Regions from separate parts of the Homo sapiens genome. Here region 2 is reported to be linked to region 1. Evidence: microRNA targets listed by miRTarBase, many of them from high-throughput screens and not tested one by one. Region 1 holds a microRNA gene; the other region holds the end of a gene's coding sequence.

The links. The annotated mature microRNA hsa-miR-1972 reads UCAGGCCAGGCACAGUGGCUCA and lies in region 1 at 1,261-1,282, opposite strand. An mRNA with a match to its seed (bases 2 to 7 or 8) in the 3' UTR can be bound and repressed. Matches are read on the target gene's strand: a 7mer-m8 pairs with bases 2 to 8, a 7mer-A1 pairs with bases 2 to 7 and ends in A, and an 8mer does both.
Region 2: the mRNA of SH3BP2 is a reported target of hsa-miR-1972. Seed matches in the 3' UTR shown: 7mer-m8 at 1,278-1,284.

What each region holds. Positions count from the first base shown.
Region 1 is chr16:15,009,069-15,012,286 of GRCh38, forward strand. MIR1972-1 (microRNA 1972-1) reads right to left here and starts at 1,329; the gene lies at 1,253-1,329. It overlaps PDXDC1 (pyridoxal dependent decarboxylase domain containing 1), which reads left to right. Exons shown (of 23, transcript NM_015027.4): 8 at 613-691.
Region 2 is chr4:2,833,494-2,836,493 of GRCh38, forward strand. It overlaps SH3BP2 (SH3 domain binding protein 2), which reads left to right. Exons shown (of 13, transcript NM_001122681.2): 13 at 204-3,000. The coding sequence ends at 341. Among named protein-coding and RNA genes, the nearest start is that of ADD1, 8.8 kb to the right of the region's middle. RefSeq lists enhancers at 1,656-1,735, 1,996-2,045.

The DNA of each region.
Region 1 (3,218 bases):
ACTGTATCACCTGCTTTAAGTAGAAACATGGCAGCTCAATTAAGCACCAGAAATTTCTTCTGAAGCTCCTACTTTTAATGAGTTAGCACTGTTGCCTGGATTTATGAATGGGCAGATTTTGAAAATGAGGTTCTTCATTGTCATCATGGAATTGAGTTCTGCTTATTTTCAGACATGCAGGTGATAAATCTCTCCTTAATGATTCCAGAAGGAAAAGGAAGGGATGGATTTTAGAGTTTTTTATTTCTTTTGTCAAGGTAGTTTTATTTTCTAGTTCAGGTACATCAGTGAGTAATAGTAGAGATACATTCTTGGCTGTTTTAGGAGAGTTAAGAGAACATTTCATTTAAATGTAAATGTTTAAAATCAAAGAAATGTTCCTGCATATGTACAGTTTTTACCTTTAATTTTGTTTAACTGATTTTTCTAGTCTTCAAGGAAAACTATTTGATTTTCACATCTATGATGAGAGAAAACAGAAAAATTGTCAAGAGTAAGAATTGATTTGACATTACTTTTGAGAGTTATCTGCTTCTTTTGTAAGTCATAATTTTTCATTTTATAGCTTTTATACTGGGCACCTCATTTTTTAATGATTTGTTTTGGTTCCAGGATGTTGCCTTCCTGGAGAAACTGATTAAAGATGATATAGAGCGAGGAAGACTGCCCCTGTTGCTTGTCGCAAATGCAGGTAGGTAGCATGATGCTGAATCTACCATTTTGAATATATAGGAGCGAGGCTACGTCCTCAGCCTATAAAAGATAAAGTCTTAAGAAATGTGTGTGTACCACATGTTTAAGATAGTCCATATCCACATTGTAGCAAAAACTGTAATAGTAAGGTTGGCTCGTTAGATTTTTCTTTAATCGTTGGTTTGTTTTGGAAGTTATTTTATGTGTGTGTATACTTTTTCATTTAGATGGTAAATGCTTCTCTATCTTCTCCTTCATGTACTTCTTTTCCCTGTTCTAAACTGAATTTTATTTTATTTTTTTGAGATAGAGTCTCACTCTGTTGCCCAGGCTGGAGTGCAGTAGCACAATCTCACCTCACTGCAATCTCTGCCTCCCGGGTTCAAGTGTTTCTCCTGCCTCAACCTCCTGAATTGCTGGGATTACAGGTGCATGCCACCACATCTGGCTAATTTCTTGTATTTTTAGTAGAGACAGGGTTTCACTATGTTGGCCAGGCTGGTCTCGAACTCCTGACCTCAGGTGATCCGCCTGCCTCAGCCTCCCAAATTGCTGGGATTACAGGCATGAGCCACTGTGCCTGGCCTGAATTTTTAAATGACACATTTAAGCCAGGTGTGGTGGCACATGCCTATAGTCCCTCTACTCAGGAGACAAGCAAGATGTTGGCTTAAGCTCAGAAGTTCAATACCAGTCTGGGTAACATAGCAAGACCCCATCTCAATAAATAAATAAAAATAATTGTACTGACGTTGTAAGATTGTTGTAAAAATTAAACAAGAAAATTCATAAGATGTCACACTTAAATATCTACCTTATAGGCGGCAGAGCAACTACCACTTGCTGCTCCATTTATCTCATTCAGCATCATACTTGAAATCTAAGACAGTGCAATAAGGCAAAAAAAATAACTGACAGATTAGAAAGGAAGAAATAAAACTTTGTTTGCAGGCATGATTGTATAGATAGAAAACTAAAGAAAAGCTACTGGAACTAATGATCAAATCTAAACCATTTTCTGGATTTTTACATACTAGCAAAGAAGAATTGGAAATTGAATTTTAAATGTCATTTATAATAGGATCAAAAAAGATGAAAAATTTATGGATAAATTTAACAAAATATATGCAAGATCTGTACATTGAGAACTAAGAATGTTACTGAGAGAAATTCAAGAAGACCCAAGAACGATATGCCATACACACGGGTTGGAAGACTAAGTATTAAGTCAGTTCTTCCCAAACTAATCTGTAGATTCAACTTGATCCATCTTAAAATCTCAGCAGGCTACAATTTCTTAATAGAACTTGATGAGCTAATTCTAAAGTTTATATAGAAATACAAGGGATCTAGGAACAGCCCAAGGGATTTTGAAAAAGAACAAAATTGGAAGACTTACCTTGTCATACTTCAAGACTTCTGTAAAGTAGCAAGTAAGACTGTGTGAGATTAACCAAAGAAAATAGAGAATTCAGAAATAGACTCATGTGAAGTATATGGACACTTCAGGTTTTTACAGATGCCTGAGTAATTCGAGGGAGAAAGGACCATCTTTTTCCATCAGTGGTCTTAGAGCTTGGATATCCATATGGAAAAAAACTGAATCTTAACCCTTATCTTATTCTCTGTATATATAAATATTAACTATAAATGGTTCATCAACCTAAGCATAGATCTAAGACAATAAAATGTCTCAAAGAAAATACAGGAGATCTTTGTGACCTTAGGTTACATTTCTTAGGATACAAAATATGTGAACCATAAATTGTACTTTATCAAAAATTAAAAGCATTAGCTGTTTGAAAGCCCCTATTAAGAAGATGAAAGGCAAGTTACAGACTGGGAGAAATATTTGCAAAACATTTTTTTCTTTTTTTTTTTTTTTTTTTGTCTTTTTCTATTTTTATTTTTTATGTTTTTGAGATGGAGTTTTGCTGTGCTGCCCAGGCTGGAGTGCAGTGGTGCGACCTTGGCTCACTGCAACCTCCGCCTCCCAGGTTCAAGCGATTCGCCTGCCTCAGCCTCCCGAGTAGCTGGGATTACAGGCGCACGCCACCGTGCCGGGCTAATTTTTGTATTTTTAGTAGAGACGAGATTTCGCCATGTTGGCCAGGCTGGTCTCAAACTCCTGACCTCAGGTGGTCCACCTGCCTTGGCCTCCCAAAGTGATGGGATTACAGGCGTGAGCCGCCACACTCAGCCAGCCACTGTCCCAGTCCTGTCTTCTTTTAAAATTTCTTTTTCATTCTTTTCCCCAGAAGCTACAAAACATTTGTTTGACAAAGAACTTGTATCTAAAATATATAAAGAACTGTTACAACTCAATAAGGACACAAGCAATACAATTTTTTTTTTTTTTGGAGATGGAGTCTCATTCTGTTGCCCAGACTAGAGTGCAGTGGTGCGATCTTGGCTCACTGCAACCTCTGCCTCCCGGGTTCCAGTGATTCTTCTGCCTTAGCCTCCCGAGTACCTGGGATTACAGGCATGTGCCACCACACCTAGCTAGTTTTTTGTATTTTTAG
Region 2 (3,000 bases), not on the chromosome of region 1:
GAGGACGGAGGGGAAGTGAGGTGGGAACATGGAGAGCACAGGCCTGATGCGGAGGCCACCTTGGGGGCACCACCGACAGCCAGGGGCCAGCCTGGTGATGCCGCTGTTGATGCTGCTGCCTTGTTTTACAGACGGGGAGACTGAGGCCTAGAGCCGCAGAGTGGCCTGGCCCTGCTGACGCTCCCCCTTCTCTTCCCCCACAGGACTCTAAGTTCTACCTGGAGGGCGAGGTCCTGTTTGTGAGTGTGGGCAGCATGGTGGAGCACTACCACACCCACGTGCTGCCCAGCCACCAGAGCCTGCTGCTGCGGCACCCCTACGGCTACACTGGGCCTAGGTGATGGCAGTCCATGTGGCTGCCAGGCCAAGGCAGTCACAGGGGCCCTGACCCCAGGCCACACAGACGGACATGGGCCCACATGGGAGGGTGAGCAGGAGCAAGGCTGTGCTTGCCTAGGGCCTCTGTGATGGACATCTCGTAGGACCCAGCCAGTCTCATCCAGCAGGTTGGGTTCTAGGGCTGAACCAGGCGCCAGGCTCCAGAGGACGAAGGGACTCTGTTGCCCCACACTAACTTGCCCTGTCCCAATCCCAGAAACCCAGGACCAAGCTGTGCCTGGGCTCCAAGGACAGGAACACTGGTCCCCCCATCACACTCACCCCTAAGTGGGCTGGGAGCCAGGCAGGGCCAGGGCAGCTGGGTGGGGGCCGGGGCTGGCCCTGGGACCCCCAGGAACGCTAAGACACAGGCTCCAGTAGGGGCTGTTGCCTCCAATAAAGCAGCAGTGAGCTTTGCCTTGGTGGCTGGGGCTTGATTGGGAAGGAGGGGATTACCAGCTTACTGGGTGCCCATGCTGATGTCTAAGTGGTGACCGCAGCAGTACCCGGGAACCCCAACAGTTGGTTGTCTTGTCTTCCAGGGTGCAGGTCACTGAGTGACTTCCCCAGGGTGCACAGCGAGTAACAGATCAGGACCCAAACTTGGGCAGTCTGGGCTGGGAGCCCACACCCCACTCACCAGTTCTGCTGCCTCAGGTCAGGCCAGGGCAGTGCTGCTGCAGAGCTAGAAGGCCCTGCAGCTACAGCTGCTTCATTCCCTGCATTAGTGCCTGGTTACTGGGTACCTCCTGAGTGGCTGTCCCCGTTCCAGAACTTGCATACACTGAGCGGGCTACAGAGCTAGAAGGCCCTGCAGCTACAGCTGCTTCATTCCCTGCATTAGCGAGCAGTTATTGGGTACCTCCTGCATGCCTGGTCCCATTCCAGACAGGGGCCTCTGGCCTGGCTGAGTTCACAGCCCAGTCTGGGGACAGCTGGGTATGAGGTGCTTACGGCACAGTGTCCAGGGCAGCTGGGTGTGCAGGGACTGGGGGCTCCCGGAAGATTTTTTGGAGGAAGTAACAGCTACGATGGGATGGGAACAGTGGACCCTAAGCAGGCCAAGGGTGCGTAGGGACGGTGGTACCCAGATGCCCAAGTCTTCCAGGCAATACCTGGCTCAGGCCCAGCCCCAATCCATCCCCTTACTTTCTGCCATGGAGTTCCAGCAGGTCACTCTCCCTGGCACACCTTCCAGGCTGGATTTTTAATGAAACAGACTCAGGGAGGTAGGGGCTGGCAGGGACCCTAGAATCCTTGTGATTTTTCTTAGCACCTTATGTCAGGGAAACCTAAACTGAGGTCAGCACTTGGGCCCACTGACAGTGACTGACTGGGGGAGAAGGTCCTGCAGCCCCCTTCCCCTGGGTGTGTTCTGGGGACCTGTGGTTTGCTGGCGGAAACAAGTGATGAGGCTGGTTAGCGGATGTGGGAGGCTGTGACCCCAGGGGGCCATAGGGTGCGGTGGAACTGCAGGCCCTGCAGATGACGGCAGCCAGCTGCTTCCAGGAACCAGGTGTCCAAGGCCACCTCTGCAGGGGTTTCCTCTTCAGCCTGCCTGGGGTGAGAGGTCAGTGCACCACAGCCGAGGCTGGAGCACAGGGAGCTTCTGTTGTTCTGATCTATCTCTGGAAAACCAGCCATTCCTCCTCCCTGCAGTCAGAATTCTTTGCCCTGTCTGACCTGAACTTGCTTAGGGAGTCATGCCACTCCCCACTGTGGCCATAGTTTCTCTTCCTGTAAAATTTTATTATTTTAGTTTTTTGTTTTTGAGATGTAGTCTCACCCTGTCGCCCAGGCTGGAGTGCAATGCCGTGATCTCCGCTCACTGCCACCTCCGCCTCTCTAGTTCAAGCGATTTTCCTGCCTCAGCCTCCCGAGTAGCTGGGATTCCAGGCGCCCGCCACCACGCCTGGCTAATTTTTTGTATTTTTAGTAGAGACGGGATTTTATCATGTTGGCCAGGCTGGTCTCGAACTCCTGACCTCAGGTGATCTGCCCACCTTGGCCTCCCAAAGTGCTGGGATTACAGGCATGAGCCACTGTGCCTGGCCCCTTCCTGTAAAATTTTTAAATGGAGAATTGGGTGCGAGATGTGGTTTCCAGCCTGGTGCCTGGGGTGCTGAGCTAGTGAGTGGTGCAGTCCAGGACACCTTTGCTTTATGTCACTTACACGGTCACCTGGAGCCGGCTCAAGTGGCTAAAGCATCCTGGGGCCCAGAGCCAGGTGATAGGTCCCTCTGGCCAACTGGACAGTTGAGGCCTGTGGTTACCCGAAGCCCAGCTGGGGCCCTGGTCCAGCCTCGCCTCCCAGACTCTGCACCTGCTAGCACAGCTGTCCACGTCTGTGTGAGCTGCTCTAGGCCGAGGGCCTCAGTTTCAAGAGTGTGTTGGGGTGGGATGGGGCAGGCCGTGGTCCTCCAGCATGAAGAAGGAGCCATGAGGAGTTCCCATGACCTCCCGAGACTTGCCATAAGTGTTCTAGTCCACATATAAGGGTAGGGTTGGGATTACCATTTACTGACCACATCTGTGAGGTGCCGAGCTGGGTGCTTGACATCATTTGCTTGGAGAAGCAGCTGCTAGTAGACCCATTTTACAGGTGAGAGAACCAAGTCTCAC